Regions from separate parts of the Homo sapiens genome. Here regions 2 and 3 are each reported to be linked to region 1. The links are microRNA targets in miRTarBase. Many come from high-throughput screens and were not tested one by one. Region 1 holds a microRNA gene; each other region holds the end of a gene's coding sequence.

Evidence for each region. Region 1 holds the annotated microRNA hsa-miR-488-3p (UUGAAAGGCUAUUUCUUGGUC, at 1,167-1,187, shown strand). A microRNA usually pairs through its seed, bases 2 to 8, with sites in the 3' UTR of a target mRNA and lowers its output. Matches are read on the target gene's strand: a 7mer-m8 pairs with bases 2 to 8, a 7mer-A1 pairs with bases 2 to 7 and ends in A, and an 8mer does both.
Region 2: the mRNA of YDJC is a reported target of hsa-miR-488-3p. Seed matches in the 3' UTR shown: 7mer-A1 at 2,705-2,711.
Region 3: miRTarBase lists TSHZ1 as a target of hsa-miR-488-3p. Seed matches in the 3' UTR shown: 7mer-m8 at 1,023-1,029.

The regions. Positions count from the first base shown.
Region 1 is chr1:177,027,305-177,030,560 of GRCh38, reverse strand. MIR488 (microRNA 488) reads left to right here and starts at 1,116; the gene lies at 1,116-1,198. It overlaps ASTN1 (astrotactin 1), which reads left to right. Exons shown (of 23, transcript NM_004319.3): 5 at 820-927.
Region 2 is chr22:21,625,386-21,628,641 of GRCh38, forward strand. It overlaps YDJC (YdjC chitooligosaccharide deacetylase homolog), which reads right to left. Exons shown (of 5, transcript NM_001017964.2): 5 at 2,704-3,256. The coding sequence ends at 3,033. Among named protein-coding and RNA genes, the nearest start is that of YDJC, 3.0 kb to the right of the region's middle. RefSeq lists a silencer at 1-267 and an enhancer at 2,471-3,078.
Region 3 is chr18:75,288,039-75,291,294 of GRCh38, forward strand. It overlaps TSHZ1 (teashirt zinc finger homeobox 1), which reads left to right. Exons shown (of 2, transcript NM_001308210.2): 2 at 1-1,906. The coding sequence ends at 603. Among named protein-coding and RNA genes, the nearest start is that of TSHZ1, 79 kb to the left of the region's middle.

The DNA.
Region 1 (3,256 bases):
GTAAAAGGCCGTTCATCACAGCATTGTTTAAACAAGTGAAAAATTGGAAATAGCTTAAATGTCCATCAACAGGGAATTGGTTAACTACCTAGCACATCTGTCTGCTGTCCAGCACTTACCATGCAGCCATTTGAAACAATATAGATCTATATTTGTTAATATGGAAAGTTGCCCACCCATCTATTAAATGGGAAAAAAAATGAAGTTATAAAATAGAAGATACAGCATAATGTCATTTTTAAAGAGAGATTAAAAAACCTTTACCTGTTTCTGTGTCAGTAAAAGCCAGAGAGTATACACATGAAATGTTAGCAGAGTTTATCTCTGATTTAAAGGATTTAGAGGGCATTAGAATTGTTCCCTTTACATAGTTTTGTGCATTTCCTTTATTCTATTCTGTCTTTTTTGTATTAAATATATATAATTCTAGAGCCAGAAAAAACACAAAGATGTAATTTCCTATACCTCTTAGATAGTCTCATATTAACAGAATCATAACCTGTAATGAGGGAAATTTCCCTTTCTTCCTATTCCACCCACTTTCCCTGGAGGTCCTCTCTGGCAGATAGGTGCCAGAAATGGCCCTAGTCAGAGGGAAGTGGGTGGGGCAGGGTAGAGCTCCAGTGATTGCTGTCCCAATGGTCTACTTCTCCAACATATCCGTGTATGAGGAAGCCCCAACCCCCTTGGCTATTTCTCCCAGATTATCAGTCAGCTTACTTTCATTTTTGTTGATTTTCCCATTGAACTTGCCCAAAGGTTTGGTGTCATGAAACCAGAACTGAAAACGCTTTCTTGACCATGCTGCTTTCATTACAGCTGGTTCCGCCTTCTTGAACCCTGAAGGGGATTCTGGCACAGAGGCAGAAAACGACCCCCAGCTGACCTTTTACACGGATCCTTCAAGGAGCAGGAGGCGTAGTAGAGGTAGGAATGATAGAGGTGGCAGAAGGTGGTAAAGGATCTGGGAGTGAGGGAGGCGGGGGAAGGCGAAGAGGTGTTGGGTTGGGTTGTGGGCTCTATGGAACAAAACCAGTTTCTGCAAGAAGAATTTTTGGACCACAACTGGTGTTTCCTCCTAAGGAAGAAAGAAGAGCCTAGAGTGGAAAATTTCAGAGAATCATCTCTCCCAGATAATGGCACTCTCAAACAAGTTTCCAAATTGTTTGAAAGGCTATTTCTTGGTCAGATGACTCTCAATTTCTTCTGGAAGACTCAGGAGTCATATTTTGCTGTTCAGACAAACAAAGTTAATAAAGTGTGTTGTATGTGAAAAGATGGATACTATATGTACCCCTGCTTCCTCTACCACATTGGCCTTGGGTTTGAGCTAGGCAAGGATTGGGGGCAGTGTAGTTGAGGAATGATCTATGGCCTGAAAATCTGTGTAATTGTCTTTGACCTTTAAGCCCCTGCCTGGTAGAATCACAGGACCCCGAGCCTCCCAGTTCCTTCCTTTCCCCTGGCAGGGTTAAGGTGGCTAATCCATTCTCCTCCACGTGGACAGAGCTGTCCTTCCACGCAGCCACTGTGTGCCACTTCACTGTCATGATCAGTGGCTTCAACTGTGGCTATTCCGGCCACAGCTCCCACTGCCTCTGACTTCACTTGTATCACCACCACACCAGCGGAGTTCGGAGCACAAGCGCCGGTCAGCTTTACCAGTTATTTGCTGTGTGGTACTGGATAAGAACAACAAGTTCTCTGACCTTCAGTTTACTCACATGTCAAATGAGTTAACAATACCTTGTGCGTAGAACATAGAGCTTTATCAGGATTAAATTATATTAAAATGTGCCTTTTTGGAGATTGCTAAAGCACTATGAAATCCCTATTGTTGCTGTTAGAACTCTCCATCATGCAGCCCCATATTTATACAGTGCCCCATCTTAAAGAATTTTAGGCAGCGTCCCTGTAAGATACAGTAGAGGATATTTGAGTGGCATCTCCTTGTAATACATTCCATAACAATTTCCTCAACCAATAGTCAACCAGTGTCTCCTGAAAGACATATACATTTTTATTCTCTCGTACCTCCACTTGAATTCCCTTCATAACAGGTGTTCTTCCCAGAGATTTGAAGAAGCCCTTTTGATTATAAATTCCAGTTTCTATAGGCTTAACTACTATCAGTATAATAAAAGTTTTTCCATCATTTTTCTCAAGAGATCATTGTGGCTCTGGGTATTCTAATATTGAATGGCCAGGTTCTGTGAGGCGAGAATGTGGATTAGGGTCTCCCAATCTCCCTTGATACTTATTACAAATTTTAGACAGTGGATACCCAACCTAGGCCCAGCTAATCCAGGCCTAATCAAAGCAGGGTGTGTCCTGCTTTAATAAAGTCTTGTTTCAGAAAAATCCATGGTAATGAATTAGTTTCTCGACAGCATGAAACTGTTCCTTTTAAATACCAAGGTCTCCTAATGCATCAACTTTTTACGCTATTAACCAGACTGTAAGCTTCTTAGGGGTGGGGAATGCCTAATTTATTTTTCCAAAGTGCCTAGTGAAGGATTTTTCCTGTAACAGATGCTTGTAAGTGTTTGTTGAATTGGATTGGATATATCCATCAGTGCAGCAAAAACATTTTATAACCCACCTGCTGTGGGTCAGGTTTGTGATAGGTGGTAGAAACATGAAAATATGGCCCAGTGATAAGGCTTAATTTAATAATATAAATAAAGTGAAGAGAGTACTCAGAAGAGAGGACAGTTAATCCTACCTGAAAGCAATGGGAGGCAAAAAAGGAGAAAGTAATTAGAACTAGGTTTTATATATATGTATATATACACATACACACACACACACACACACACACACACACACACACACACACACACACACTGTACTGGGTTTCTCAAAAGAGGAGAAGAAGTCTAGGATAAGGGCATTTCAGTAAAGGAAAATGGCACATAAAAAGCCTTGAAGGGACAAAAGAACATGGTGTTTTAAAGGAAGTAAAAGTCGTTCAATATGGCAGCTGTCATCAAGTTATAAATATATACGCACACGAGATGGTAAGGATGAGGCTGGAAAATGGCTAACAAAGGACCATGCACATGCCATGTGACTGAGTTTCTGCTTGCCTCAGTGGGGTGTAAGGAACCATTGGAGGTTCTGAAACCAGGTAGAGATGCTGGATTATGGGTCGATGATGCAGAAAGACCATAGAGTCAGGAATATCCGTAGCAAGTCATTGAAATCACATGAGAGCAGTGGCAATTGCCTGTAAACAGTGATGATTCTATGTGAT
Region 2 (3,256 bases), not on the chromosome of region 1:
CAGAGAGCATTCCCCACCCGGTGCTGGCCAGGTTCAGAAACCCCCCTGTGGCTCCACATGTTGCCGTGGGTTTCTCCTACATCTTCCTCTGTGTGTCACTGGATGACACTGGATGACTGTCCCTGTATGTACCAGACTGGGAGCTCCTTGCAGACCAGGCCATGTCAGCTCCAGCCCTGGCCTAGCACAGAGTGGACCCTCCAGACACGAATGCCGAGTGGGCGGATAACAGTGAACCGCTTGGCTAAGACACTGTTGCTGCCCCCACAGCCCCTGTGGCCCACCAGTCACCACCCCAACAGGTCCTTATCACTTTCACCTCCTCGTGAGATGGGCCTCATTATAATCAGGTGGGCCTGATTATCCTACCAGTCTATGCCCCCTCACTTCAGTTTTTTTTTTTTTTTTTTTTTTTGAGTCAGGCTCACTCTGTCACCCAGGCTAGAGTGCAGTGGCATGATCACTGCTCCCTGCAGCCTCTACCTCCCAGGCTGAGTCGATCCTCCTATCTCTGCCTCCTGAGTAGATGGAACTACAGGCTTGTGTCACTACACCCGGCTAATTTTTGTATTTTTTATAGAGACAGGGTTTTGGCATGTTACACAGTCTGGTCTCAATCTGCTAGCCTCAAGCCTTCCTCCCGACTCAGCCTCCCAAAGTGCTGGAATTACAGGCGTGAGCCACTATGCCCAGCCATTATTTTTTCTTTTTTAAATAACAGAAATAAGGTCTTAGTATGTTGTCTAGGCTGGTCTGGAACTCCAGAGCTCAAGTGATCCTCCCACTTCAGCCTCCCAAAGTGCTGGGATGATAGGTGTGAGCCACTGTGCCTGGCTTCACTTCACTCAAATGCTCATGGTCAGCCGGCTGCTGTGGCTGATGCCTGTTAATTCCAACACTTTAGGAAAGGCCAAGGTGACCAGATCTCTTGAGCCCAGCAGTTTGAGACCAGCATGGGCAACATGCCAAAACCCCATCTCTACAAAAAATACAAAAATGAACCAGGCATGCCTGTGCTCCCAGCTCCTCAGGAGGCCATGGTGGGATGATCACCTGAGCCTGGGGAGGTGGAGAACTGCAGAGACGTGATTGTGCCACTGTACTCCAGCCTGGGTGACAGGATGAAATCCTGTCTTTAAAAAGAAAAAAAAAGTCTCACGGTCCCCAGGGCTGCTGTCGACTCTGCTCATCCCTCCTTCCCTCCCTGAGTGACAGTAGCCACTCATATAGCATCTGTGCAGACCCCCAGGTCTCTCCTGCCCACCCACACCTCTCCTGAGCCTAAAGCTGCACAACCAGCTGCCTCCTCCTCTCAGAACACTTCCATAACAGAAGCCCCTCAAGGGAGCTACGTCTGTATCCCCGGCTAACTTCAGGCCACCCCTCTCCCAGCCTTAGCCAGCAGCCTGCAGGAGTGTGGCCAGATCTCAGCAGGCTGAGGCGAGGAGGTGGAGGCTAGGCAGCAGGAGGAGCAACTGTACAGTGATTCCAGCTCACAAGCATGGGTGCAAGAAAGCAGGAAAAGTGCTGCAGATGGGAGAGTCCAAGTCTAGTGAAGGTCAAGATGGAAGACGAGTGTGGAGCCAGAAAAAGGGACTGAAGCCACAGTCAAGGGGATGGGGCCATGAGTGGGTAGAAGCAGGAAGGAGGAGCGACATCCCACACTCACCCTTCAGAAAGCCACACGTCTCTCCAAGCTGCCTAGGCTGGATGAGAGCTCTCTTGGCCCCTGATTCCATGTTTGGCCCAGGCTAGGGCCCAGTGCACATTAAATAAATGAATGAGTAGTTTCAAAGCCCTGCTCTGCCACTCCTGCCTCTACCCCTGTAAAATGGGGACATCGGTGCCTGCCTCATAGATGCTATTTCATGAAATGAGACAAGGACCACATGGTATTCCATCTGCCTTTCCATCCTGCGGAGTGGTGCAGAAGGACTCTGTGCTCTAGAGGACTCGCACTGCCTTCCCCATCTGCTCCTGCACCTCAGGAGCTTTCAGCTAAGCCACATGCGGCCCCAGTCCACAGGGCATCCCTACATTGCCAGAAGTTAGGAACCATGGTATCCCATTTCCCGGGAAGACTGCTCCTCCTAGAAAAATTTAAATGTATTCCCACAGGGTTGCAGGGTCTCCTCACGCCTATCCCGTAGAATGGCTTACATCTAAACAGATGACTTTTGTTTTTGAGATGGAATTTCGCTCGTTACCCAGGCTGGAGTGCAGGGGCGCGACCTCGGCTCACCACAACCTCCGCCTCCCGGGTTCAAGCGATTCTCCTGCCTCAGCCTCTCCAGTAGCTGGGATTACAGACATGCACCACCAATGCCCAGCTAATTTTGTATTTTTAGTAGAGATGGGGTTTCTCCATGTTGGTCAGACTGGTCTCGCACTCCTGACCTCAGGTGATCTGCCCGCCTCGGCCTCCCAAAGTGCTGGGATTACAGGTGTGAGCCACCACACTCAGCCTACAGGTGACTTCTTAAATCAATACTGAGATTATAGTATTATGCCTCTTCCAAAGCAGCCTGGTGAGGACAATCTCCCACTCCCACCCTAAAAAGGAATAAAGAAAATTGCAGCATGAACAAAACCAGAATGGAGAATGGGCCATTTCCTGGAGTGGTTTGAGCCAAGAGGGAGCTGCTCTTTGTCCGTGCTTGTTTCTCTGAGGGTCTCCTGGGCACAGCTGATAAACCACCCAAGTTTGAAAGACACACGTTATTTTATTAATATAGCCATCTCTCCCCACTGCCCCAGTGGTGAAGGTGTTTGCATTGCAACATGGAGGGGCACCAAATGCTCTGCGGGCCCTAGCCCGCTGCCACAGGCTAGGCCTGCCTGCAGCCAAGAAGGCTGCTCAAACTCTAGATGCCATTTGGAGGCATGAGGACCTGAGCCCAGAGGTGGCAGTGTCCTACCCAGGGAAGTCAACAGATCGTGCTCCAGGTCCCAGCTCTGGGCTGGGCCAGGACTAAATCCTGGCTCCCCTTTCTTGGTACTAAGGGGATTAGTGCTTGGTTGTCTGTAGGGGGTCAGAGTAGGGAGGGTTCCAGGAAGGGTTCCAGAGTGGGCTCACAGGGGACCTCCTCCCCTGGCCTCTTGGAGTCCAGGTCGTCGAGGGCGCAAAGCTGCACGCCATCCTGGGCAAGCTGGGCCCGCAGCGTGGGCGCGGTGAGGACGCGCAGCTCATGCAGCCGCTCCCAAGAGCAAGAGAAAGCGTCGGGGCCTTCACCGCAGCCGCCGGTGGGAGGCACAC
Region 3 (3,256 bases), not on the chromosome of region 1:
GAGCTGTCACCGGTCCACAAGAGGAAGGGCCGGCAGTCCAACTGGAACCCGCAGCACCTTCTCATCCTGCAGGCCCAGTTCGCCTCGAGCTTGCGGGAGACCACAGAGGGCAAGTACATCATGTCGGACTTGGGCCCGCAGGAGAGGGTGCACATCTCGAAGTTTACTGGGCTCTCCATGACCACCATCAGCCACTGGCTGGCCAATGTGAAGTACCAGTTGAGGAGGACAGGGGGAACGAAATTCCTAAAGAACCTGGACACAGGGCATCCTGTTTTCTTTTGCAACGATTGTGCCTCTCAGTTCAGAACTGCTTCTACATACATAAGTCATTTGGAGACACACTTGGGCTTCAGCCTGAAGGATCTCTCCAAGCTGCCACTCAATCAGATTCAAGAACAGCAGAATGTTTCGAAAGTCCTCACCAACAAAACTCTGGGCCCACTGGGGGCCACCGAGGAAGACTTGGGCTCCACATTCCAATGTAAGCTCTGCAACCGGACTTTTGCGAGCAAGCACGCAGTCAAACTGCACCTTAGTAAGACCCACGGCAAGTCTCCCGAGGACCACCTGATCTATGTGACTGAGTTGGAGAAACAGTAGCGTCCAGGTATGCAAGAGACCGCGGAACATTGCACTAAACGTCGTCGAGCTGCACTAGGCCTGGCCTGAGCCTCTGAAATCAGTCTTTCCTTTGTTGCTGGCCCGCCTCTCTGGACCTTGGTTTTCTTACACATATTTTGTATATTTATATGCTCTCTGTCCGATCTGTGCATGTTATTTTTCTTTTTCCGTGAGTCAAAGTCTGACCTTTATTTTCAACATCTGTTCTTGGTGTTAAGCTATCTTTTGTAGGAAATAGTGGGGCACACTACTCAGAGACATTATTTAGCAGTAAAGAAAGACACAAATAACAATGATAAAAAGACATCCTAAAATGGTGAAGTTGCCATGACAATAAAGGTCATAGAACCTGGTAGTGTCAAATTTAACCCTTTGAGGACTGTAATTGCATTTCTGTGCCTTTCACTTGAAAAAAAAAAAAGAAGAAAAAAAGGCTTAAAGGCATTTCATTCAGATCAAAAGCTGTGTCAGACACAAAACTTATTTAATAATTAAAAAATGAGCTTTTATATGCAGAACTGGTTTGTGAGGAAACATGCATGCAGCTGTGGGAAGATAGAAAGCTGTCTAGGACTCACGGGGTTCGGAAGCCACACCTCTACATGTCTAAAACAAAAAACAACAACAACAGATACCCCACTCGCCACTATGCCCAAACCCTCTGGATGCTGAAAAATGCCACTTTCGGCAAAAAAAAAAGTATGCAAGCTATTATTTAAAAATGTGTAAAAATGCTATTTCTTTTTTCCTGTAAAATATTGCAGTTTATAGTTATTTACAAATGTAAGCTTTGGTACAAGCTGACCTTTCTATAGCGTGCTGCATTGGTAAATGAAAAAAAATGGGGCAAACGTTGGAGTCCTTTCCTTGTAAATTGCCAGCATCAGCTTAAAAACTCCTGTATGTTACATATCGTACCATTTTAATCTCTTCAACTTTCTTTGTACCTTCTGGCTGTATGCTTTCTCTTTTAACTTTTTATATTGTCATTTTATATTAAATTTCTGTGTATATAATGTAAAACCACAATTTTTGAATAAAATTTAGTTCCTGCAGCTTGATTTAAATAGAGGACTTTTACTGGCACCTGCATCTCTCCAGATGCATGTACTCAGAGGGACTGTCAGACAAAAATAAATACATAAAAACAAAGCAAGCAATGCACTATTAATTATACATTTTGATGTTCTATCATTAATATTGTACAGTACATTTTGGTTCACACAATTAAATCCACTGTTTTCTCAGATGTAAAATAAACCCACATGCAGTTCTTGATTTACACGGATTGTCATGTCGTCATTATTTTGCCTTTGAGATGTTATTTCAGCAACAAGAGGTATTGCTTATGCAATCAACCAACAAAAATTCTATTCAGAATCATCATTTCATGATTTGTGTGCTGACATGTTTCATTCAAATGATAAGTATTGCGTTTTAAAAAATGATAATTAAAATTTTTAACTCCACTGGGTGCCAAGGATTGCCGAGTTTAGCCATTGAGTGATGGCTGTTTTGTACTTAGATGGGCTGAGATGCGTCCTTCAGAGAATCCTTTGCAAAATTTAAAAATATGTATAATTAACCTGTGTGTCTATCCAGATATTTAATGATGGGAGTAGAGGGGTAGGGCTTACTCCACCAGCAAAGACCCCAAGGACCCTGGAATTAGTTCTGTGTTACTCCAAAGAGGAAAACCTGATTTCTGAGCTTTTAAAAATCTACAATTTTAAAAAGAAAACTGGCTGCTGTTGTATTCAGTGTTTGAGATGAGGCTTCTTTCTGCAGATTAGAGCACGGCGGGCTCTACTGAGAATGTCAGGACCCTTGCCATGAAAACGCCCATCCTCCAGGGTGACCCCCATCCCTGAAAGCCCAGGACTCACTGCCCAGTCTGTATTGAGGGAAGCATTGACATTGAGGCCCCCTGGCTTCTCCCCCCAGCCCCAGAAGCACTTAATGATACGACCAGGAAAATTTACTTTTCTGCCTTTTGCTTAAATTTTCATAAAATTATATCCTGAGAAAGGTTAGAGCTTACACCGCTCTGTTCAGAAACAGCTAAGCAATTGTGATATTTTAATTATTTCTCTCACATTGCCCCGTGACAGCAAGGATTGTTCTGTTTCCATTAATGATTTGAGGAGGAGGAGCAGGTCCAGGTGGGTCATATTTACACAGTCTTTTGTACTAACGCAGCAGAGCGCCAGGGAGGTTTGCTAAATTTTTCTGACTTTTTTCATTGGTAAATAGCTATGTCCTTTAGGAGCCTCAGCCATTTAGACATTTCAGTTCAATTACTGGGTGATTATGTACTTTGGGCTCAAGGGGTGACAGAGAAGAATAACAATTAGGCTTATGGCAGTGGTGTGGGGGCTTTGCATAATAATCCTTTGAAGTTATGTTTATTTTACCACAAAACTGCAAACATACGATTATGTGATTTCACCCTTATAGCAAGAGTGTTAGCAGCAGCAGGTGAAGTGGTACAAAGGGAGGTGAGCGCTCCCCAGAACGGGGTCGCTGGGCCCAGTCCCAGTGTGCAGCTAAGCACTGAGTCATTTTAAAGCAGCTTGCAACTTGAGTTCCGATCACTGGGGATAGACATAGAATTGGGGTTTTCCTTTAAATT